7 linked regions of the Homo sapiens genome follow. The protein of the gene in region 6 interacts with the protein of the main gene of each other region in a biochemical or structural test. Each region holds a gene or a part of one and is shown on either strand. Other genes may lie near its edges. The genes, in order: DDX39B, OGT, PIN1, KDM8, MYL2, PKM and PRKN.

Region 1 (3,500 bases), on a different chromosome or scaffold from region 6:
AAATTGTAGGAGAAAATAAGCAGGTATGATAAACAAAGATTAGAGGTAGACTTCCCAGTGAGGTGAAGATTGCTGGAAATAGTAACAACACAATGGAAAGAGCAATGGACTTGGAATCAAGAAGTGGGATCAGATTCCAGCTGTTTGTTTTAACCAAGCAAGAAATAAGGTAAAACCCCAAAGTTCCCAACTATGAAATGGGGATAAAGCCCAGTGCAGAGGCTCTCAAGGCCTTCAAAACATGCTTTATGGGACCTTCTCCCAACCCTTTCCTGCCCAAGCCCCAGCCAGCCTTCAGCAGACTACAAATATCAAGCACATATTATATTCCAGATATCAGAGTCCATCTATGACTCTCTGGATTACTTTTCTATCAAGTCAGGCAAATATGACATCCCTACCTGGAGCCCACCTTTATAGCTCACCATATAGAATTGCCAAAGATCATTTGTAATGACTTATGGGGCCTATGTCCAACCCCACTCTCATTCACCAAGATTCAATTCTTACAGAAAAATCTTCCATTAACCCCACCTGGCACACTAGAATACCACATCACACAAACTGCTACAAACACTCTCTACATTAATCCCAGACCTGAGTCTAGACACTTATTCAGCTATAAATTCTGACTGTAAATGCTGTGCTGGAGATGCCAGAAGGGTACTGTCTTCTCTTTCAGTTTAGAATCTCCGCTATGACTCCCAGTATATGAATCTATAATGAAAACGGTGGTGGTGGTGATGACTTATGCCTAAAATTATCAAAGTCCCCTATTCTCAAAGGTTAAAAACAAAAATCATAGAAAGATGATAGATGACACCCTTTACTGTGCTTAAAAGCATAATAAAGACCAACCAGGGAACCCAGAGCCATCAGTCATGGGTGATAGATAAGAGTCGTCCTTGCACTGAGGTGCTCCTGTTTCAAATAAACATCATTTGGCTCCAAAGAACAACTCCCCAGCATTAGCCAAGCCCCAGCACTGCCACTCACCGAGCTGTTCAAGCATCTTATCACATTCATCCAAAATAAAGTGTTTAATGTGTTTGAGGTTGAGGCTCTTATTTCGAGCCAGGGCTAGGATACGGCCTGGAGTCCCCACGACGATATGCGGGCAGTTCTTCTTCAGCACCTCTTCATCCTTCTTGATAGACAGACCACCAAAAAAAACAGCAACCTGCCGAGCCAGAAGCAAAGAGTCTCAAAACAGAGGAAGGAAAGAGTCCAATCCCCCCAGGGTTCCCACTCTGTTTGAGCTAAACCAATTTTTAGCATGTTTCCAAACTAAAACTAACTTTAGAGGGCACCTAATTTAAAAATTTTATGTCCCCCCCACCAAACACTGAGGGTGATTGCCTAAAGTTACATGGCTAGTCGGAGCAGTCAGGACAATAATTCAGTTCTACTGACTTAATCTAACCAACTTCCTTCATTTATGAGGCCAGGCTTCATTTAAAAAATAAAGGAGCCAGGTGTGGTGGCACACGCCTATAATTCCAGCTACTCAGGAGGCTGAGGCACGAGAACCTGGGAGGCAGAGGTTGTGGTGAGCCAAGATCCCACCGTTGTACTCCAGCCTGGGCAACAAGAGTGATACTCCATCTCAAAAAGAAATAAAATAAATAAAAATAAAATAAAGCCAGGCCCAGTGGCTCACGCCTGTAATCCCAGCAGTTTGGGAGGTCAAGGAAAGTGGATCACTTGAAGCCAGGAGTTCAAGACCAGCCTGGCCAACACGGTGAAACCCCATCTCTACTAAAATACAAAATTTACAAATTTACTACTAAAAAACAAAAAATACAAAATTTAGCCGGGAGGCTGAGGCAGGAGAATCGCTTGAACCCGGGAGGTGGAGATTGCAGTGAGGCGAGATTGAGCCACTGTACTCCAGCCTGGATGACAGAGCGAGACTCCATCTCAAAAAATAAAAAATAAATAAATAAAGGACAGCAAGAAATCACCAGATTAGTGTAAAGTACCACAAAAAACACATGGAACATTAAGGTTTCCTAAATAAACCCAGAATCTCAAACTCTTTTCACACAAACCCCATGAAATTACTGCTTCGGGCTAAATATTATCATTTCATGTTAAAACCATTAGGTGAATAGTTGTTTGGGGATCTGGGCCTTGGTACAGTATCAAATAACACCAGAAACTACTTTCTGGTTTCAAGGGGGAAAAGAACAACTGTGGAATCAGACTGTCACGACGCTAATCCTATGGTAAATCTAAAATCATTAATGAGGCCAGGTGCAGTGGCTCACTCCTGTAATCCCAGCACTTTGGGAGGCCGAGGTGGGTGGATCACTTGAGGTCAGGAGTTCGAGACCAGCCTGGCCAACATGGCGAAACCCTGTCACTACTAAAAAAAAACAAAAATTAGCCAGGCATGATGGCACACTGTAGTCCCAGCTACTCGGGGGGTTGAGGCGGGAGAATCGCTTGAACGTGGGAGGCGCAGGTTGCAGTGAGCTGAGATCGCGCCACTACACTCACAGCCTGAGGGACACAGCGAGACTCCATCTCAAAACAAATAAATAAAAATAAAATAAAATAACTAACATAAGTCGACCAGATTTGTGGCATAACAGGAGATACAGTATCACCTATGAAGGATTCTTGCCAAAAATGCTTAACTTCAATCAGATTTTTTCTTTTTTTTTGAGATGGGAGTCTCACTCTGCCACCCAGGCTGGAGTGTAATGGCACAATCCCAGCTCACTACAACCTCTGCTTCCTGGGTTCAAGCGATTCCCCTGCCTCAGCCTCCCAAGCAGGTGGGACTATAGGTGTGTGCCACCATGCACGGCTAATTTTTGCATTTTTAGTAGAGAGAGGGTTTCATCCTGTTGGCCACATTGGTCTTAAACTCCTGACCTCAAATAATCCACACGCCTTGGCCTCCCAAACTGCTGAGATTACAGGTGTAAGCCATTGTGCACTTGGCCAGAATCCTCAATATTCACACACCACTGGAGCTGTTTTAAAGTTTCCGGCTTTCTCTGCCACATACCCCAAAATTATTAAACTGATATGATTCAAAGTCAGTATAAAGTAGTAAGAAAAGGGTGGTCTTGTGTTAAGCATCATCCATAGCCCAATTACGAATCCTCCTGTTACATAGGAACTCAACACTCTGTTACACCACAGCAAACTAAAGCTTCTCCAAAATTAAAGAGACTATTGGCCTACAAGTTTCTTATCCCTCCAACTTGCCACACCCTCACTCTCAGGTCTCTTTACCTTGGCTTACCTTGACATTGGGCATGTATTTAGAGAAGCGCTCATATTCCTTGCTGATCTGAAAAGCCAACTCCCGAGTGTGACACATCACCAGTACAGACACCTTAGGCAGGAAGTAGACGGAGACATATGGTAAATGTAGCTCTTCATTATCCCCTCTAGGGAAGTGACTGTCACAAAAACACACCTGGGCCGATAATAAATGACTTCAATTATGTGATCTAAATCATGAACCCCACGCTTGCGACAGA
Region 2 (3,500 bases), on a different chromosome or scaffold from region 6:
TGCCTTACACTCTCTTGATAGAGCTACTTATTTAAGCATGCAATATATTATTTATTGAGTACATACTACATTACTGTGATTAAGACATGGGCTCAGTAATTCAATTCAGTAGAGGATACAAACACAGGGAATTATCATCTGTTGTGCTGTATGTAATGATATATTCCAAACATTACAGAGGTATAAAAGACAGGTACCAATGAAGTAGGGATGGAGACGTTAGCGGTAAGTACGGAAATGGATTCCTGGAAGAGCTGTCTGAACTGAACGTTTGAGTAGGATTTAGCTAGGGAAAGGATGGGTTTACAGAAGCAAGAAACTGTATGGAATCTACACATAGTTCATCATGTAAGAGAGTAAAGCCACAGGCAGGGAATAACAAGATATTAACACAGCAGTTTCTCAGTAAGTAATAATCTGCTGGCTGAATCCAGGAGACTTTTAAAATCAGACACACCTATATAAGATGCACGTTTCCACTAAACTCATTTCCTCATCCATAAAAATGGTGATAATGATACTTGCCTCCTAGAGTTATCATGAGGTTAAGGGAAATAAATGCATACTTGGCGGGACATATAATGGTGTATTATTATCTTCTCACCTGAGTAGTTGCCAGTCCATTGCTAATACTGAATCCATTAATTGTTATTTGAATCTGTCCTCGGTTAATCATTTCAATAACTGCTTCTGCAATAGTATTCATAGGAATAACAGGCATATTAAGAGCTGTGTTACTGCTATCTGCATTGTCTCCTCCATCAGGACACTTCATCTGAAAAAAAAATGCATCATTAGGGAAAAGATCGTGAATGCAGTTAACTTTATTTCAATGACAATACTGACTAGGTTCTGACCTTGACAATTTTCACATCTGGTAGACTATCAAGAAATGCTTTGAGGTCGATGCCATTCAGAACTATCCGATTGTCATAAATGTGCCCATTGGACTTAAAATCGATGACTGCTTTTTTCTAATGGAAAAAATAGTTTCAGACATGTCTTTTAGGATTTACATAGACAATAGCAAGGAAATAAAAAGCTACAGTTCTTTGAAATTCGTCCATAGCACTGTTTCATACCTACCTTCAGGTGAGGGAACATATTAGCATGATCACCAATAAAAAAAGTGTGGGGCATATAAGCCAATTTCTCGGAATACTGCTCAGCAACTTCAGCTGGCGAAGTTTCCTGATCAGTGATAATATAATCCATGAAAAGCGCACCACTCGTCCCAGGGTATCCCAGCCACATTGCCTTAAAAAAATCAGATCAAAAACTGATTAAGAACTTTTATCAGTACACTTACCTCTAAATTCATCAAGTCACATACATTAAATATGTACAACTTTTTGTATGTCAACTGTACCTCAATAAAGTGGTTTTTAAAAAAAGAACCTAAAGGTGCCAAAATTAAATAAGTAAATAAACAAGGAGGTCTAACTCTTTTTTAGAGACAGGATCTCACTCTGTTCCCTAGGCTGGAATACAGTGGTGCAATCGTAGATCACTACAGCCTCAAACTCCTGGGCTCAAGCAATCCTTCTGCCTCAGCCTCCAGAGTAGCCAGGATTACAGGCACTTGCCACACGCACAGCAAGGCTGACTTCTTTAGCCGAAAGCAATGAAGCAGTTCTATAAGAGAGACTCTTACTCTGTCACCTGGGCTGGAGTGCAGTGGCATAGTGATAGTTCACTGCAGCCTCAAACTCCTAAGCTTAAGCAATCCTTCCACCTTAGCCTCCCAAATAGCTGGGATCACAGAGGCACACCACCACTCTGGCTAATTTTTTAATTTTTTGTAGAGATAGGGTGTTTTGCTTTGTTGCCCAGGCAGGACTCAAACTCCTGGTTTCAAGAGATCCTCCTGCCTAAGCATCCCAAAGTGCTGGGATTACAGGCGTGAGCCACCATACCCGGCCTGTATTTCAGACTAACTTTCAAAATGCTAAAATGTTCTTCAAATTTGCAAGACAGAGTAACTGTTCATAGCCAACCATGAATTGCATGTCTCTATATACATGTACCTATAAGCACTGTGCTCTACACTCTTTTTGTCCTGTGCATTTCAACAACTTAAAAAAATTAAAAGTATGTCTGCCCTACAGTTTCAAATATCAGTTAACCAGAGGGAGGAAAAGCAGCACCTCACTGTATTCTTAGCCAAATACATGTTATAAGTGATGACTGTTAATTTGTTTACCTGAATAGGAGCTGGCCTGAGAGCAAAAAGCTCATTTCGAGCGCCCTTAGTATAGCCATTCATATTTACAAGGATATGAATTCCATCCTGATGGATGCGATCAGCTGCTTTTCCATTGCATGGAATCTACAGAATACAAAATAAGAACTCACTATGTATAATCTCAGATCAATTAGTTTTAATGACATTTAGTTTTAATGGCATTTAGTTTTAATGGCATTTAACATAATTCAGATTCCCAGATGGAAAAGAGGTAAGAACACAAATTAACTACATTAATTCGGGCACAAATATGGTTGACTGTCATTAAAATGGGCCCAAAGCATTAAAGAAACAGAACACAAAGGAAGGAGAGTTCACTTCTGGATTGAATGTATGAATAACAACATATCACAGAGAAATTGGTATTTGAAATTTGTAATCTTTTTTTTTTTTTTGGTAGGGATGGGGTCTCACTATGTTGCCCATGATGGTCTCAAGCAATCCTTCCACCTCAGCCTCCCAAAGGATTATACACGTGAGCCACAGCACCCAGCCTAGAATTGGTATTTGAAAATAGGTCTTCAAAGACGAATAGGAGTTTGAAGGAGTTTAACAGAATACAATCTCAGTAGAGAACAGTATGAATGAAGAACTAGAGTAAAGTGTGAGGGAGTTTAGAAAATGGTGAGTAGGCCGGGCATGGTGGCTCACATCTGTAATCCCAGCCCTTTGGGAGGCCGAGGCAGGTGGATCACCTGAGGTCAGGAGTTCGAGACCAGCCTGGCCAATGTGGTGAGACCCCGTCTCTACTAAAAATACAAAAATTAGCCGGGTGTGGTGGCAGGCGCCTGTAATCCCAGCTACTCGGGAGGCTGAGGCAAGAGAATCGCTTGAACCTGGGAGGCAAAGATTGCAGTGAGCCGAGATCGTGCCACTGCATTCCACCCTGGGCGACAAGAGCAAAACTCCATCTCAAAAAAAAAAAGGGTGAGTAATTCACTTCTATTTAGTATAGGGTATACAAGATGTTGAATGGTGAGTTAAAGTATTGACAAAGTTGTGGCAAACAGAGAAAGGTTACAAAAGCTATGCTGAAGAGTTTAGACTGCAATCAATCAGCAGTGAGTCCCTAAAGGTCTCAGAGGTAGAAAGAGGTATGCTTCTTGGTCACAAAGAGTCCAACTGTGTATCAAAAATGGCCAGGTATACTTTTGAAGCAACAGCTATACTGCAAAATTTGTTAGTACATACTATTTATTAAATGAGAAGTCTCAAAACCTTTCTGCTAGGACTTCAGTGATTCATATATATATAC
Region 3 (3,500 bases), on a different chromosome or scaffold from region 6:
GCACTCCAGCGTGGGCAACAAGAGCGAAACTCCATTTCAAACAAACAAACAAACAAACAAACAAACAAACAAAAACGCTTTCTTCCTGAGTTCCTGCTCTGTGAGGCTGACCTTGAGGGGTTTGGTCCTGTGTGTCTTGTTAGCTCAGCCTGTACCTGACCCCGCGACAATGACATCCTCCGACTCCCACCTCGCAGACCTTGGTTTAAGCCTCTTGTCCTGCCTGAAACTCATCAGCTATCCTCTGGTCTCCCCAAGAAGCCTCCCCTAATCCCCCACTGTGTTAGGTGCCTCCCCCTGGGTGCTGCATTTACTACCGTCCCATTGGTGTGTTGCTTGCCCGCCTCACAGTGCAGGAATGGAGGCTGCTGGGTTGGCCTTCTTCATTGCTGCACCCTCAGAACCCAGCACTGTGCACAAAACAGGTGTTCACGAATGTTCAAGAAGTTAATGAATAAATGAGACAGAAATAGGCCATGGGGAAGGAGGGAGACAGGGATCTACCACGGGGCTCGAAGCAGAAATGCTGGAATCTCATGCCCTATCTGCCTGAAACTCAGGCTGCGACCCTAAGGCCAGACTTCCTGGGCCTCCTCCAAGACAATGTGTCAGCCTTGCCCGACGGCGCCAAAACCTGTGAAATTTGATGGGGACTGTCGGGTGCTGGAGCCCCATCCTGATTCGATGTGGCTCCAGCTTAGAACCACACAGACACAGGGTGGCCTCTCCAGGAGCTCCCAGTCTGGAGCAGGGGCCTCCACCTGCTTCAAGGTGTTCAGGACCCCCTGAAATAGTATGCAAAACAGAATGGCACCTATCTGTGCTGGCAGACCCCAGCCAGCCTGCTCACAGTGTATCCCCAAGGTCCAGGAGGACATGTTATGGGTGCTGACTCCAGACTCCATCAGGTCCAGATCCTACCTCTGCTGCTCCTGAACAATGAGAGTCTGGCAGGTGACTTTACCTCTTGGAGCCTCACTCAACTGGCCTGTAAAATGGGGTAACCGCTGCTCCCACGTTGGAGCCTGTTCCAAGGAGTGAATCAGTGACCGCTTAAGCAGTGGCTGTTGCAGAGCAGGCCCCTGACAGATCCAAGCTGCCCATCCGTTATGGACTCAATGTTTGTGTCACCCCAAATTCATGTGTTAAAGCCCTAACCTCCAGTGTGGCTGCATCTGGAGATGGGGACTTTGGGGAAGTAACTAGGGTTAAATGAGGTCATAAGGGTGGGGCCCTGATCCAACAGGATTAGCGCCCCTTTTTTTTTTGAGGCAGAATCTGGCTCTGTCACCCAGGCTGGAGTGCAGTGGTACAATCTCGGCTCACTGTGACCTCTGCCTCCCAGGTTCCAGCGATCCTCCTGCCTCAGCCTCCTGAGTAGCTGGGATCACAGGTGTGCGCCACTACATCTGGCTTTTTTTTTAGTATTTTTAGTAGAGATGGAGTTTTACCATGTTGGCCAGGCTGGTCTTGAATTCCTGACCTCAGGTGATCCACCCACCTCAGTCTCCCAAAGTGCTGGGATTACAGGCATGAGCCACTGCGCCTGGCCAGGATTAGTGTCCTTATAAGAGACACCAGAGAGCTCGTGCTCCTTCACTCCGTGCACATGCGCCTGGGGAATGCCATGTGAGTGCACAGTGAGAGGGCAGCCGTCTACAAGCCAGGAAGTGGGTTCTCGCCAGGAACAGAATCTGAGGGAACCTGGATTGTGGACTTCTGGCCTCCAGAACTGTGGAAAGTGATGACTGTTGTTTAAGCCACACTGTCTGTGATATTTTGTTACAACAGTCCAAGCTAATGCACATCAGTGACCTAGGTGGGAGTGAGGGAACAAATGGGGTAGTCCTTGACCCCAAAAATGTTTCAAGACGTGCTGTCTCCTCTGCCTTGCCAGATCATTACGCTGCTTCCAGCATACTTCCCCCAGGCTGCCCAGGCACCAGAGGGGAAGGGGCCTGGTCGGGGAAAGAGGTGACAGGGTCAGATCTGAGAAGACCAAGATCCAGAAGGAGGGGCTAGAGGCTGGCCCAAGGCCAGCAGGCTGGAAGGGCGCCAGTGACCTTGAGGACCCCAGGACAAAGGGGCTGACCTGGATGCTGGGATGGGTATGTGAGTAGGACAGCTGCTCATAGTCTCAGCCTTGCTGGGACCCTCCAGGCCCTGGGCATGTGAGGGGTGGCTGTCAACAGATCTGGGTGGAGAGCGGGCAGGGAGGGCTTCTCCATGGCCCATCCTCCTTAGACAAGGACACTGGCAATGACTCCCTTGGATCTCTGACAGCCTCTGGCTGTGGCCCAGCAGCTGCAGAGGAGCCAATGCTGGGAAAAGGAGCCTCAGCAGAAAATGTGGAGGTCCCGGCTCTCTCTGCAGGCAGCCTGTCCCTTCGGGGCAAGGGCGGAGCACCAGATCTAAATGGGCACTGATGAGATTTAGCCCGGCTGCCAGCTGGGGAGTGAGCTGCCCAAATCATGGTCTCCTGATCACCCGGCATGAACCCTCGAGGGGAGAACATCCACTTCATGGAAGAGAAAATGAGGCCCAGGTGCCCAATGCCTGCGCCGACACTGCACATGATGATCTGTTACCGAGTGTACCTCGGCCGGGGCCACCTCACTGCATCCTCCTATCGACCTCTGAGGAGATCTGCCCCAGCACCGTCTCAGGCAGGAGGATACCAGGAGAGGGAGGTCGTGTGCCAAGGTCATCATCTGTGTGCTGAGCCCACCAGGCCTCCTGTGGTCCTATCCGGAACTCTTTCTACGGGCTGTGGGGTGGCAGCAGGGGCTGCCCGTGAGCAGAGGCCTTGACTTGACCTCAGCTCCCCCATCGTCCACACCCCAATGACTGGGGCTGAGGCTCCACCGTGCAGAGCACGCCAGCCACTGAGCCCATAGCTCCTGGATCCTCATAGCCACCCTCTCCCCATTCTACAGATGAGGCAACTGAGGCTCAGGAAATGAAGACCACACAGCTGGCACTGAAATCCAGCCCTGTACGAGCCCAGGGTGGGCCACGCTGTTCTGCCCTGACCCTCCCCCAGACATCCCACCCTTGCCCACCTAATCCATCACCCAGTCCTCTCTATCCTGCCTCCTGAATCTCTCTCGGGTCTGCTCCCTCTCACTTCTTCTTCCACTTCCAGCCCCCAAGTTCAAGTCACACCGCCTCTTGCTCCAATTCCTCCCACAGCTTCCACCAGGTGGGCAGGCAAGGCTCCTGCTGACATTCCAGAATCTGCAGGTACCTACGGTGACGCCTCAGGGCCTGGCTACTTACCAGGTGCACCTGTCCAACCCAGAGATGGGCGAGACACCCTCGCCCACCACACCCAGACCCATGCCCTCCTCACTATCCCCACCGACCTCAGCCTTCTGCCAGCTCTCATCAGGATTGCTTGGAGCAGCTCTGTCCTGCGCCTGGCTGCTCTGCTGACCCCCAGGAGCCCACTTCATGCCGCTCCATCCCCAAATGCCTGCACCCTCCTGCTCACTCTTATA
Region 4 (3,500 bases), on a different chromosome or scaffold from region 6:
ACCTCAAATGTCGACTTCCTGAGGTGGTTGCTATTTTGTTCTGTTTTGATTTTAAACAGAAAGCAAGGGCGGACCATGGTTTGATTCCAGATGTGAAGTTAGAAAAAACAGTCCCCCGGCTGCACCGTCCGTCCCTCCAGCATTTCAGGGAGCAGTTTTTGGTTCCAGGGAGGCCCGTGATCCTGAAAGGCGTGGCTGACCACTGGCCGTGCATGCAGAAGTGGAGGTGGGTGGTCGCTGAGGGAGGTGAGGTCCCTTTTCCCATTTTAGCGTTCCCCAGGGCTCCCTGAATTCCTCCCGACCATCCCCAGGGAAATGCAACCTTGTAGATGCTTCACTAGCAGCCCTTGACTGATTGCCAAGGGGTTAAAAAAGAGTGAAAAGTAAGGTGCTCTGAATTTATGCCGCAGGTTATGGGATTCTTACCTTCTACCTTGCTCGCCTTAAGCGGTTTTTTAATGAGTCCCTAAGTGGCAGTCCTAGAATGTTTCTGTTATGCAATTTTACAGGATCCTAGCAATTTCAGACCATCTCAGGGCCCTGAAGCTAAGAGCAGAAATAACCCAAGAGACAGCCCCTCTCTCTCTGAGGGATTCTGTGGTCTCTTGTGTTTGTTTCTAGTCCTTTCTCAGAATCATGATGGGGAGATCAGATCAGGCAGCTGGAGCGTGGCTGTCATGCCGCGGCTCTGCATGAGTTTGGAAATAAGGAGGCATCTCTCCAGGAAGGTAGATGGAGTCCGCCTGTTTTGTGGTTTCGCGGAGGGAATGGTACCCGCTGACACATGTGGAGGAATTCTCATTGCAGGAGCTCTCCTCACAGCAAGGCTTCATTAAGCATTTTACTACGTACCTGGCACTAGGACAGGTGTTGTCATCACCCCCATTCTGTAAATGGGGATCAAGGACTCGGGTTCAGTAACCTGCCTCAGATCCCCTGGCCTGTAACTGATGAGGCCTGGAATCAGTCCCAGGCTAGAGGGCAGAGTCCAGGAGACTGCCACCTGCCACGCTGTCCGCTATTTGTTCAAAGGTTTCTCAGCTTAGTGACAAAATGAGCAAAGAAAGAAGTGAGGAGGCTGTTGGCAAGCAGGGAACTAGAGCAGCCCAGCCAACCAGACTTACCGGCCCTGTCTGCAAAGCTGCACAGCACTGTGTATGAGCCACACAGCCTTGAGCAGGGAGCCCCACCTCTCCATGCCGGTTCCTCATCAGTGAAGCTGGGGATGACAGTCCTTGTCTCTGCACGTGAGGTTTTCCGAGGATGAAAGGGGACCACATGCAAAGCACACTTAGTACTATGCCCAACAGATATTAGCAGTGACGATGCCAATGTGTGTCTTTCTGCTAGTTTGGAGTATATCCAGGAGATCGCTGGCTGCCGAACTGTCCCAGTGGAAGTTGGTTCGAGGTACACAGATGAGGAATGGTCCCAGACCCTCATGACGGTCAACGAGTTCATCAGCAAATACATCGTGAATGAGGTACATCATGGGGACTGCTTTCCCCTAGTACTTGCAAGGCAGAGAGCATAGTACATTTAGGCAAATAACCCCCCATGTGTTGTAATGGGAGGTTTTGGAGGAGCCAGGCTGTAAGTCTGTGGTCGGAGGGACGACCGCAGCGAGGAAGGCAGGCTGCTTAGCCAGCAGACATGAGGGATTCATGTCAGGTCCTTTTTAATGGGCAGGGGAGTATAATTCAGTGGGTTTTAGCCTGTTCCAAAAGTTGGACAGCTAAGTCTAGAGTATGTGTATTTAAATTTTTAATAGCAGCCAGGCATGGTGGCTCACACCTGTAATCCCAGCACTTTGGGAGGCTGAGGCAGGCGGATCACTTGAAACCAGGAGTTCAAGACCAGCCTGGGAAACATAGTGAAACCCTGTCTCTATAAAAAATATAAAAATTAGCTGGGTATAGTGGTACGTGCCTGTAATCCCAGCTACTCAAGAGGCTGAGGTGGGGCAAATTGCTTGAGCCCAGGAGGCAGAGGTTGCAGTGAGCCAAGATCAGGCCACTGCATTCCAGCTTGGACAATAGAACCAGGCCCTGTCAAAATTACGACAGGACAGGATAGGACAATTTATTTTTCCCAAAAGTTAGATCACTTATACTTTCACCAGCAATTAACACAAGTGTCCATTTTCTTACATCTTTGCCTGCACTGTTTGTTGCCATTTTATGAAAATGTTTGCCAATCAGATGGATGAGATCAGTGCTTTACAAACTGGGTACCCCGGTGCTGGAGAGGTTCTTTGAAGCTGCCCCAGGGCCTCTAAGGGTTGGAGAGGACCACTCAGGATGGAGTGGAAGGGTGACGGGTGCTGCAGCTGGGGCCAGCTGGACAGCAGCAGCAGGAGGGCATCTGTCATGACTAACTGGGCTTTCTGTGTTGCCTCTGGTTTTCCCCGGTGGATTAGCCAAGGGACGTCGGGTACCTTGCTCAGCACCAGCTCTTTGACCAGGTAAGTCTGAGGCCACGCACCTCTGCCCCTCACCGTCTCACCTTCCCCTCTCCTCCCCTCCTGGGCTCAGTGCGGCTGGAGCAGTGAGCGTGAGTAGGAGGGAGGCAGCAGGTGAGGCTAGGAAGGTGACAGGACGTGGGTGATGAGGAGCCATTTTCCTAAAGTGACAGGAAACACTGGGGGGTCGCCAGTGCCCCGAGGATTGTAGGGGCTGCTATTCAGAGATGAAGGGAGCAGCTGTCGGAGCGGGTGGCTGGCTGGGCTATTGCTGTGGTGCAAGGAGAGGTGATGCTGGCAGGTGGAGCAGTTCAAGACCGGTGTGAACCACCGAGCCCTGGACGTGGGTGGATGTGTGGGGGAGGGAGGGAAGATCGGGGAAGATGCCCAGATTCAGGACCCCAAAACACTAAATAGATGGAGCTGGGGCGCCCAGGAGGGACCTGGCTGGTGTGGTGTCTGCCAGGAGTGCCCAGGAAGGCAGCCCTTGGCAGGATTCAAGGATAGGGCCAGGTGCGTGTCCCGAACGTGGAAGACTCGAGTCAGTCAGGGTCAGGGCTACAGCCAGGGGTGGGCTGGGGCCGCACCTCTGTAGCCTTTGCAGTGGGGCCCTGGGATGCTGATCAGCTGCTGTATCTACTGCTGAAGCCAGGACTGCTTCTCTGTCTCGATGGGGGACCCAGGGCCAGTAGGGGCTGTGCCAGGAGCCTTCATGCCGACATTAAAGGACGCTGGCGGTTTCTCTTCCCCAGGCCTCCCTATTAGGACCTGTGCATCCTGCGTCCTGTCCATGTCACTTGCTAAGTGAAGGAAAGGGGGATTCTAATTGATCAGGTCCCTACTGTGTGATCCCGAGACCCACCTTTCTCCTGACCCTGGTCATCCTGGGGGCATGGCCTCAGTGTGGGCTGGGGACCCTGGAAGCCATGGTTAACCTTGGCTCCCTGTCCTGGAGCAGCTGTTTCATACTTTGTAGGACAGGAGGAGTTATATTTAGGAGTAGAAGGCCAAGTTCACAGTGACTTTCAAGATGAGCCAG
Region 5 (3,500 bases), on a different chromosome or scaffold from region 6:
TTTCCAATGGTGCTTTATCTCTTTTAAAGTTAACCATCTTCTGCCAGCCCCCCCGAAGAAACATAGACACATACACACAGACACACACACACACACACGACCTTACCCTTAAGTTTCTCCCCAAACATTGTGAGGAACACAGTAAAGTTAATTGGACCCGGAGCCTCCTTGATCATTTCATCAATTTCTTCATTTTTCACGTTCACTCGCCCTAGGGTAGGAAACACACACTCAGGGACTCCGAGCTGGGGAGAAAGAACCATTATGACACTGCCATTGGCTCCTGGGATTCCACTTCAAGAAATCTAGTCTAGAAATCATCAGAGATGGGGTGGATGGAGGCAAAGATCTTTTCTGAGAAGATGTTCTTGACAGTGTTATTTATAATAACCAAATGACTGGAAGCGACCCTAACATCTGATGTGGGAAGGTGTTCGTTATTTATTTATTTTTCTTTGAGACAGGGTCTGGCTGTGTCACCCAGGCTGGAGTGTAGTGGTACAATCTCGACTCACTGTAACCTCCGCCTCCCAGGTTCAAGCGATTCTCGTGCCTCAGCCTCCCAAGTAGCTGGGATTGCAGGTGCATGCCACCATGCCTGGCTAATTTTTGTAGTTTTTTGGACAGACAGGGTTTTGCCATGTTGCCCAGGCAGGTCTCGAAGTCCTGGGTTCAAGTGGTCCTCCAGCCTACGCCTCCCAAAGTGCTGGGATTACAGGTGTGAGCCACCATGCCGGCCAGTTCATTATATTTAAAATAGTGTCTTCAGAACCTGGAACATTTGATGCAGATATTTTCATTTTTCACTCAAATGGGAAAGGCTCATGTTGTAAATTAGCCCTTCACAGTTGGAGGCGGGAGAGACAGATCAGGATCACCTGAGGGAACTTTTACAAGTTAAACCTGCTGTAACCCACAGCCGTGGAGGTTCTGATTTACCTGCTCTAGTCCTGCCACAAGCCTAACTTTGTGCAAATAAGAAAAATCTGTCATTTTTTAAGCCAATGTATGTTTTAAGTATAAAAAGCTACACTCACTACAAATGTGAATACTTCCCTGTAGAATTGTGCAGTGCGCAGTCTGCACAGCTGTGTATGGTTGCCCTGAGTTCTAAGGTCAGGAGTAAGTGGTGGTGGCGGGTAGCAGATTGGGCATGTATATTTTGAAGAAACTCCATGTACTCATGCTCACACTGTTGAGATGATACATTTTAGAAGATAAATTCGAAAGAGAATGATTCCAATAATTTAAAAAACTAAAACCCAAACCTAACAGACATGTCTAGAAAGACTTAGAGGAGGGACTGGAATGTTCACAGTGGAATATGACCTTCTGGGTGATGTCATTTTCTCCTTTATACTTTTCTGCATTTTTTCCCCATTTTCTGTTGTGAGCTGACATTGCATTCAAAATCACACAAAAAAGTTATTTCAAGAGAAAAAAAAGATATCTGAAGGTACTCAAAGACTAAACACTTCTTTCCCATCCCCTGAAATTTGTCTTAAAGACCAGTTGTGGCAGAGTTGTTTCTTTGGGAAATGACACCATCTTGAGCTTTTCTGATGGTCCCACCTCCTGCTCCTCATGGATGTGAGATAAAGAGACCCTCATGCAGGGCTAGAGAGGGTGACATACCAAGGGCAGCAAAGGTGTCTCTCAGATCGTTCTTGTCAATGAAGCCATCCCTGTTCTGGTCCATGATAGTGAAGGCCTGTGGAAGGGAAGTGATTGGCAGCTCAGCCTGGGAGAAACTGGCAGAGTTGCCCAAGAGATTGGGCCAAGGACTTGGCAGGAGTGGATTCTGGGATCTTCAAAGATCATTGTAGGACCTCAGATTAAAAGTCAACAATTGAAGATAATCCAACAGTTTCTTCAAAACGTCAGGCCTCGTGTTATCATATGACCCAGACATTCCACTGCTAGATATATACCCAAGAGAATTGAAAACATGTCCACATAAAAGCCTGTACACAAGGCTGGGCACAGTGGCTCACGCCTGTAATCCCAGCACTTTGGGAGGCCTAGGCCCGTGGGTTACTTGAGGTCAGGAATTCAAGACCAGCCTGGCCAACATGGTGAAACTCCGTCTCTATTAAAAATACAAAAATTAGCCAGGCGTGGTGGCGCATGCCTGTAATCCTAGCTACTTGGGAGGCCGAGGTAGGAGAATTGCTTGAACCCAGGAGGCAGAGCTTGCAGTGAGCTGAGATCATGCCACTGCATTCCAACCTGGATGACAGAGCAAGACTCCATCTCGGAAAACAAAAACAAAAACAAAAAAACCTGAACACAAATGTGTATAGCAGCATCGTTCACAGTAGCCCAAAACTGAAAATAACCTACATGTCCATCAACTGATGAATGGATAAACCAAATGTGGTCTGTCCATACAATGGAATATTATTCAGCCATAAAAAGGAGGGAAATTCCTACAAAGGTTACAACATGGATGAGCCTTAAAACATCAGTGAAAGAAGCCAGACACAAATACCACATATTGTATGATTCAATTTCTATGAAATGTCCAGAACAGGAAATTCATGGAGACAGAAAATGGATTAGCAGTTGCCAGGGGCTGGTGGGAGAGGGAGGAGCAGGAAGTGACTGCTAATGGGTATGGGGTTTCTTTCGGGGGTGATGGAAATATTCTGAAATTAGATAGTGGTGATGGTTGCACAACTTTGTGAGTATACTGCAAACCACAAAACTGCACACTTCAAGGGTGAATTTTATGGTATGCAAATTATAACTCTATAAAGCTATTTATTTATTTATTTATTTATTTTTGAGAAAGAGTCTTGCTATGTCACCCAGGCCGCAGTGCAGTGGTGCAATCTCGGCTCACTGTAACCTCCGCCTCCCGGGTTCAAGCGATTCTCCTGCCTCAGCCTCCCGAGTAGCTGGGAGTATAGACGCGCATCACCAATGCCCAGCTTATTTTTCTTTAGTAGAGTCAGGGTTTCACCACGTTGGCCAGGCTGGTCTCAACCTCCTGACCTCAAGTGATCTGCCCACCTTAGCCTCCCAAAGTGCTGTGATTGCAGGTGTGAGCCACTGTGCCTGGCCCGTGATTCCTCATTTGTAAAACACTTGGGCATTTATAAAGTTCTGAGAATCTCCCTGACTGTCAGCTGAGATAGATTACTGGTCCCATTTTATAGATAGGGCAGGCTAGGGAGTGGAGAGGCCAGATGAGACACCAGTTTTTAGCTTTTTAAAAAATAATAGCTTTAGGCCAGGTGCAGTGGCTCACGCCTGTAATCCCAGCACTTTGGAGGCCGAGGCGGAGGGATCACTTGAGGCCAGGAGTTTGAGACCAGCCGGGCCAACACAGTGAAACCCTGTCTCTAGTAAAAATACAAAAAAATTAGCCAGGCATGGTGGTGAGTACCTGTAATCCCATTTACTCAGACAAACAAACAAACAAACAAACAAACAAACAGACCAAATGGGGAATCCTGGCTACATGTTTTGAGTTCTTTGCATCCCTTACCCACACC
Region 6 (3,500 bases):
TCCGGTGACATAATGCTCCCCTTTTGGCTCAGGGTGGCTCCTTGGCCTCACTAGCAAAGACCGCTCAGAGCTGAATACGGTGTGCCCTGGAGAGCTGCACAAGGATTAAGGAAAAAGCTGAGTGTAACTAAAGCTCTTTGGGGTAATGGAAAAATTACCTTAATAACCAGGTATCCAGGTGACAGCTGCTCTAGAGATTCCACTGTTATGTCTCTTTAAACCTGTGATTTACTAACATTCCACTATTCTATACAAGAACCTGGTCCCTCCCCTTTTGGGAGCGGGGAAGGGACACCAAATTAAACATACCTAAAAGACCTGGGAGGATATATACTGAAATTTTAATAGGACGTCATTGGGGTGGTAGGATTACAGAAAAAAAAAAATCCTCTTTATTAACAAATTTACTGATATAAATATAAAAATACTTTTATAGTAAGAAATTATGTGTACCTCTTTTGGAAATATTTATATGCATCCTATAAAATTGTTGGGAGGAAGTAAATGAAATGTGAAGACACCAATTCCATTAATCAATTGCTGCTCTATGCACTTCAAGAATAATCTGCTTTTAAAAGGTGGCAGAGAAAAGACGCATGTCTCAAGTTCTGTACACTGGGTTGTGATTAAAAAAAAAAAACGATACAAGTCTTAGGCCCTACATCACAAATGTACTGCAGAACAGTTTCAACGGCTTAAGAAGGTCAACCTTAATACATTCAGAACCTCAAAGCAAAAAAAAAAAAAAAAAAGTCCACAGGATAATCCCATGCCTCAAACCTGTTAGTTACATGCCCAAATCCAGCAAACTAGTTTGTTCTCAAGCTTTACAGTAAAAGCTTTTGACAATGTTCTGGTACAGAAGGGCTGCCTCCAAGTCCACGAGATGCCATTAGCAGATAAAATTATATTGGCCTCAAACACAAACCCTATTTCAACTATCTCAAATTAAATCTGATGCCTATAAGCTCTAATTTTTTGCCAATAAGTACAAAAATGACAAATGAAAATTTCTATAGTGGATTTACGCATTAGCAGTCAAAAAAAGCTTGCTTGTCAGCAAGTTCATCCAGACTCCAGATCTCATGTGTCCTTCATGCTCTCTACCCAGCCAGAGACCTCATATCTCATGCCCAGGTCTTTCCTCAGGCTCTGACCTGAAGCCTCCCTTGCAGGGAGGGCCAGAGCTCTCCTGCCTTCTCCAAAATCCTCCACAAGCCTCTTCCCAGCACAAACTGCCCATCCCACCAACCACGTACCTAGAGTTGTATGTAAAACACTCACTGGACTCCCCTGGCTCCAGGAGAGCAGCCCAGCCTTGGTTTCTCAGGGCGGACTTCTGGGAAAGACTCCTCTCCCTCATGCCAGCTGCCTGGACAGTGCCTGCCAGGACATGTGGCCCCACCCATGCCAGTCTGACTCACTATTGCATCCTCCTCCTAGGAAGGCACAGACATGCAGAGCCAACCTCCAGCCAGCAGTGGAAGCCTGGCGTATCCACTGATAGCAGCACACACCATGCCCAGGTCCAGGAGCCTTATTCTTGAGCCCGAGCCCCTGCAGTAAGATCTTCCTCAGAGCCATGTCTCCTCTGTGAGAAAGGAGACACCATCTCTAAGAGGCCTTAGTCTGGAGTGACAGGTTGGAACAGGCACAATCACAGCTCAGCTCCAAGTGCCCTATTCTCCCTTTCCTTTCTCATCTCAGACAGCTCCTGGCTTTTTATATTAGTTTCCTTTGTGTCAGACACAATTTTTTGGCCATTCTTCAGAAACCAGGAGACAAAAATCATAAAAAATACCCAACACTCCTCCCTCCAACTTTTTTTTTTTCTTTTTTTTTTTTTTCAGACAGGGTTTCACTCTGTCACCCAGGCTGGAGTGCAGTGGTGTGATTATATTATATTATAGCTCACTGCACCCTCAAACGATCCTCCAGCCTCAGCATCCCAAGTAGCTGGGACTACAGGCACGAACCACACCCAACTCCCATGCTCCACTTCTTAGGGCCAGGACTGTTGTTGGGTTGTGCTGGGAAAGATTCACGCTTCACTCCACCAATTCTTCCACAAAGGACCAAATCATTCTGCCCTAATAAAATAGCCTGGCCCGTGAGTCTGCATCTGCCTAAGTCATTTTTCCTTTGTACCAATTATGCTCCGATACCAACCTCATCACATAGATCAACTATAAAATGATGGCACCTGATGCTCACTTTCTCCCTCCAACGTTGCCAGTAGGTACCCAAGATTGTGTTCCTTCCTGTGACGTCAGTTTGCTACCTACACCTCCAAGCCATCATGAAGGCGTTTCGATCCACAACTCTTCCGAACACCTGCATCCGTTAGAAAGTCTGCATCATGATACGCTGGCATTCAGGTCAGCCTGCTCTCTAGTTCTCTTCCTCAACAATGGAAATGGAGTTTCTAAGATTTGCCCTAATCAAACTAGGCCAGCAACATGATCAAAATGGGTGACGGGCCAGCAGAACCTAGTAAGGTCTGGAATAGGCACTGTTCATCTTCATCTATAGTTAAGGGTAATGACAATAATGTATTTGCATATGGGTGCAGGATACAGAGGATAAGATATCTTCTAGCTAAGAGACCTGGGTCTTAAGCCCACACTTTAACCCCAGGAGGCCCCACAGCAGAAAGCAGTATGGTGTTACCAGGCTACACAGAACAAAATGAGCCCACTTGTAGGTTCTAGTAAAATTCCCTGGCTTTAAAAAAAAAAAAAAAATCTTGGCTCTTTTATTTCTTCGGGGCTGAAAGTAAATGACTTGTCAACAGGAACCTAAGGTCCTATTTCCAACTAGAGTGTGGAATAGGGAAGAGCAGCTGATGCTAAATGGGCCTACTTCCCTCAAAGACCACTCAACTTCAGGTGAAGAAGCCCTAAGTCAGAGACCCCTCAATGTCCTCAGATGCCGAGGATTTCCTGGTTCCATCCCAGCTGCTCAGTGCAGAGAACTGGTTTCAGCCTGAAGGAGGTGGTTTGGGGGAAGCATTAGTTGTCCTGGGACATGGTGCCTCCTTACTAGGATTAAAAGTAGGGCGGTGTTTCTGGGTATGATATCCACACTCTAAAATCAGCAAGGGACCTGGGACCCTGATTTAGGGTCCTCTTAAGTGCAACTAAGGTGGGTGATGGCCTCAGCAAAGTGAGGCACTGGCTCAACATTTACTGGAAGGGCTGCCCTGCATTCTAGTCGGGGGGATAAAGGAGGAAAGGCAGTGCCAACTCTCCAAGAGCACTGAACTAGTTACTATGACTGGTCTTCCTACGGCAGCCTTTATAGGTTTGCTTCTATGTTACGAATTAAAGAAAAAAAAGTTTTAACATCTGCCTCTCTACCACCCAGAACTGACCATTAACACTGAGCCATGGCTGGCTGTGTTGGCTCACGCCTGTAATCCCAACAGTTTGAAAGGCTGAGGCGGGCAGATCACTTGAGGCTAAGAGTTCGAGACCAGCCTGGCTAATATGGTGAAACAC
Region 7 (3,500 bases), on a different chromosome or scaffold from region 6:
TTTCCTGAAAACACTACTTTTATGACCAGAACATGAGCATAGTATGCTACCATTGAAAATTTATCTGACATAATTTGACACAAAAGTAGAATCCGTTTTAAATGTATTACCACAATGCATTTGTCCTGAAGATTGTGTTTATAACACATTGCTTTTCAGTATTTCCAAAACATTATACGCTTAACGCTGAAGATCTGAAAAACACAATCATAATAAAAGAAAACATCCCACAACCCAAAGATATAATTTGCCGGTATACTTCCTGATATTTTTACATATACAAATGGCCCCTAATGCTATCTAGTTTCCAGTTATGGTAACTAAATGGTCACATTAACACTTTTTAAAAAAGATCTTTCCCAATTATTAAGAACTCACACATATTTGTCCATCTTAGATCACTTAATCATCCTATCATCACTGTTTTAAGACAAAAAAAATCTTATTACTTCTAGGAACTTCATCTCAAATAGCATCCCCATCCCCTCTCTGACTGACTTTACCTGTATAACTTGCATTCTATTAAGCATAAGATGATTAAATTGGCTGCAAAAGCCAGAAGGGACTTTTAATGAATTTACACACTAAGAATTGTGACAACTATGTCTTGATCCAATATGAAAGTTTCTTAGATGTTGAATCTCCATTAAAAATTATTCCAGAGGCCAGGCGCGGTGGCTCATGCCTGTAATCTCAGCACTTTGGGAGGCCGAGACAGGTGGATCACGAGGTCAGGAGATCGAGACCATCCTGACTAACACGGTGATACCCCGTCTATACTAAAAATACAAAAAAAATTAGCTGGGCATGGTGGCAGGCGCCTGTAGTCCCAGCTACTCGGGAGGCTGAGGCAGGAGAATGGCGTGAACCTGGGAGGCGGAGCTTACAGTGAGCCGCGATCACGCCACTGCACTCCAGCCTGGGCAACACAGCAAGACTCCGTCTCAAAAAAAAAAAAATTTATTCCAGAACTGTCCCCCACAAAACAAAATAGAGTTCTAAAATGGGCAACAATGCCCAGAAATTGCCAGAACATAAAAAACAAGCACAGAGACTTGGTATAAAACTCAAGACACTGAGAATAAGATTATTTGGTGACTTCTTTGAAATCAAGATGATATAAAAGTCAATACCTATGTCAGAAGCTCTGCATGTAGTGAGACACGGCAGATGCCACACACACATACACACACACACACACGAGAAAGGGACAATGAATAATGGAGAAAACTCTAGAGAGGGACAAAAGGAAGAAATTCCAATTCCAATCATAGGTTGAGCATCTCACAGATTCCTAAATGAACAAGAGTGGAAAGCCCACAACAGATCTCTACGAAATATCACTCTCTGTATCATATGATTATGTCTAAATTGACTGCCCAATAAAACACATATACTTCCCATCTGATCCTATGAATTCAGACATATTCATGTAAAAACGTCTTTATATATTGTCACATGTAATTATACAAATTTGGTGAATATCAACTGGATCATGCAGTCTACATTTGTCTGTGGTCAGGAGCCCAGAGAAGCAGCACCTCAGAGAACATGACCTCACTTGTGCTTAAATCTGTACCTCTCACACTCTGGGAACTCACCAGAGAGCTATAAAGGACTTTCAGGAGAAAGGAGGTCGAATTTCAAGGGTGGAGAGAAGACCCAGGGCACAGGGAATATTATTCTTAAATCTGTCTAATTCTCCAAGGAGCAAACCTAACTTGCCCCCATCCTCTAGCTGCCCAGAGTTCATCATTCCTCAATTTTGTTTCAATGGAAAAAAAAAATTGTAATCAGGACTGGATTTGCCTGGAAGGAAAATGCAGAGCCAGAGACTACAAAGATTTCCATTGCAGACAATTCCCAATCTAGGGAATGTCTCCAGTAGGAGCTGTGGTGAAGCCTGGTCTGTTCCGGTCAGGCCACTCCTGTGATAACCCTCAGAAACATTACAACCCACAGTCAAGCCCTGTGGCAACAAGTAAGGAAGAAATTCACCTGTTGTTCAGACAACAGCTGCTCCTTTGAGCTGAAGAATGAAATATTAAATTCCAGCTTCTGAGAAAATCAAGGAATGTGGGTAAGAAAAAAATGAGGGGACAGAAAAGAGGGAGTGCAGGTAGATGTCAAAAAAAAAAAAAAAAAAAAAAAAACTAAAGGTTGACCTCAGAAACACAGATATTACAAATGTTCCTTCCTATTTCTCCATTTTATTAATACGAGCAAGTTTCAGGTGTCTACTTCCTATCATTTCATGATCTGGAAAATGGATCTACTCTGCGGGTACAATAAGCTTTAAAAATGACTACGCAGTTACAGAGGGCTTCATCACAAGATCTTATTTATGCACTGAAACTCCAAAAATATCTCACAATAGGAGTAACTGGCGTATTCAACAATTATGTAAATAAATAATAAAAAGTCTCAATCAGGACACCAATATTAACTCCCTAATCACCAATTTTCCCCCTCATTTGATGAGGGTAGGAGTAGAGATGTGCAAAATGGGTGAGGCTGCTAACTATTGAACATTCTCTCCTCCAAAGTTAAGGGCTCTCATGTGAAACTTTATGGGGGCCTCTGTTCAGGTCTTACAGTAAAAGTAAATTGGAGAGAATCATCAAGAAGCCATCAATACTCTTAAAAATACACACATCTGTCCATAGATGGTCTTTTTTTTTTTTTTTTTTTTTTTGAGACGGAGTCTCGCTCTGTCGCCCAGGCCGGACTGCGGACTGCAGTGGCGCAATCTCGGCTCACTGCAAGCTCCGCTTCCCGGGTTCACGCCATTCTCCTGCCTCAGCCTCCCGAGTAGCTGGGACTACAGGCGCCCGCCACCGCGCCCGGCTAATTTTTTGTATTTTTAGTAGAGACGGGGTTTCACCTTGTTAGCCAGGATGGTCTCGATCTCCTGACCTCATGATCCACCCGCCTCGGCCTCCCAAGGTGCTGGGATTACAGGCGTGAGCCACCGCGCCCGGCCCATAGATGGTCTTAATATGTGCCTAGGTATATGAGTCATGCAGATATCTAAGAGGAAGAAACTATTCTGCACTATTCTGGGTGACACGATATCCACAGCTCTGATGACATTGTTCTCTCCACACAGAGAAGAAACTATAAATAGAACCCTAAGCATCATGTTCCACATATCAAAGAAGGAGATACAAACTATTTTTGGAATACAAATAAAGCTTTAGTAACATGAAATAAAACACCTGTCAATAAGAGACATTAATCTATTCTACAAAAATAAGAACTTTTTAAAAAGAAATATGGCCTTTAATCAGAGATGATGTAATGACATATCAAATCAATGTCAACACCCTGAGAAAAGCCATCTCCTACTGCACAATTACCCTGCCATTCTCAGTCGAAGACTGTCCTCTATTAAACATTATCTGGACTTCTTTCCTTTGTTTTATGGAGTGAGTTTATAAACGCTTGTTCTCCGTAACTAGTGATTTCAAGTATTCTGTTTTATCTAAGAAGTACAATGA

Evidence for each region.
Region 1: the proteins of PKM (region 6) and DDX39B form a complex in vitro, tested with the Homo sapiens proteins (one study listed by BioGRID).
Region 2: the proteins of PKM (region 6) and OGT form a complex in vitro, tested with the Homo sapiens proteins (one large-scale study listed by BioGRID).
Region 3: the proteins of PKM (region 6) and PIN1 form a complex in vitro, tested with the Homo sapiens proteins (2 studies listed by BioGRID, with this or other methods).
Region 4: the proteins of PKM (region 6) and KDM8 form a complex in vitro, tested with the Homo sapiens proteins (one study listed by BioGRID).
Region 5: the proteins of PKM (region 6) and MYL2 form a complex in vitro, tested with the Homo sapiens proteins (one study listed by BioGRID).
Region 7: the proteins of PKM (region 6) and PRKN form a complex in vitro, tested with the Homo sapiens proteins (one study listed by BioGRID).

Annotation. Positions count from the first base shown.
Region 1 is NC_000006.12:31,535,504-31,539,003, forward strand, and holds part of DDX39B (spliceosome RNA helicase DDX39B), read right to left. Parts: intron 3,353-3,500; coding exon 3,260-3,352; intron 1,181-3,259; coding exon 997-1,180; intron 947-996; exon of another isoform or gene 871-946; intron 1-870. UniProt on the Homo sapiens protein: Involved in nuclear export of spliced and unspliced mRNA. Component of the TREX complex which is thought to couple mRNA transcription, processing and nuclear export, and specifically associates with spliced mRNA and not with unspliced pre-mRNA.
Region 2 is NC_000023.11:71,560,604-71,564,103, reverse strand, and holds part of OGT (UDP-N-acetylglucosamine--peptide N-acetylglucosaminyltransferase 110 kDa subunit), read right to left. Parts: intron 2,330-3,500; coding exon 2,204-2,329; intron 1,258-2,203; coding exon 1,087-1,257; intron 975-1,086; coding exon 858-974; intron 776-857; coding exon 605-775; intron 1-604. UniProt on the Homo sapiens protein: Catalyzes the transfer of a single N-acetylglucosamine from UDP-GlcNAc to a serine or threonine residue in cytoplasmic and nuclear proteins resulting in their modification with a beta-linked N-acetylglucosamine (O-GlcNAc).
Region 3 is NC_000019.10:9,841,818-9,845,317, reverse strand, and holds part of PIN1 (peptidyl-prolyl cis-trans isomerase NIMA-interacting 1), read right to left. Parts: intron 1-3,500. UniProt on the Homo sapiens protein: Peptidyl-prolyl cis/trans isomerase (PPIase) that binds to and isomerizes specific phosphorylated Ser/Thr-Pro (pSer/Thr-Pro) motifs.
Region 4 is NC_000016.10:27,213,526-27,217,025, forward strand, and holds part of KDM8 (bifunctional peptidase and arginyl-hydroxylase JMJD5), read left to right. Parts: intron 1-59; coding exon 60-226; intron 227-1,077; exon of another isoform or gene 1,078-1,247; intron 1,248-1,350; coding exon 1,351-1,483; intron 1,484-2,419; coding exon 2,420-2,464; intron 2,465-3,500. UniProt on the Homo sapiens protein: Bifunctional enzyme that acts both as an endopeptidase and 2-oxoglutarate-dependent monooxygenase.
Region 5 is NC_000012.12:110,914,080-110,917,579, forward strand, and holds part of MYL2 (myosin regulatory light chain 2, ventricular/cardiac muscle isoform), read right to left. Parts: intron 1,712-3,500; coding exon 1,636-1,711; intron 246-1,635; coding exon of another isoform or gene 212-245; coding exon 107-211; intron 1-106. UniProt on the Homo sapiens protein: Contractile protein that plays a role in heart development and function.
Region 6 is NC_000015.10:72,221,191-72,224,690, forward strand, and holds part of PKM (pyruvate kinase PKM), read right to left. Parts: intron 1,382-3,500; exon of another isoform or gene 1,364-1,381; coding exon of another isoform or gene 1,260-1,363; intron 95-1,259; coding exon of another isoform or gene 1-94. UniProt on the Homo sapiens protein: Catalyzes the final rate-limiting step of glycolysis by mediating the transfer of a phosphoryl group from phosphoenolpyruvate (PEP) to ADP, generating ATP.
Region 7 is NC_000006.12:162,717,767-162,721,266, forward strand, and holds part of PRKN (E3 ubiquitin-protein ligase parkin), read right to left. Parts: intron 1-3,500. UniProt on the Homo sapiens protein: Functions within a multiprotein E3 ubiquitin ligase complex, catalyzing the covalent attachment of ubiquitin moieties onto substrate proteins. Substrates include SYT11 and VDAC1.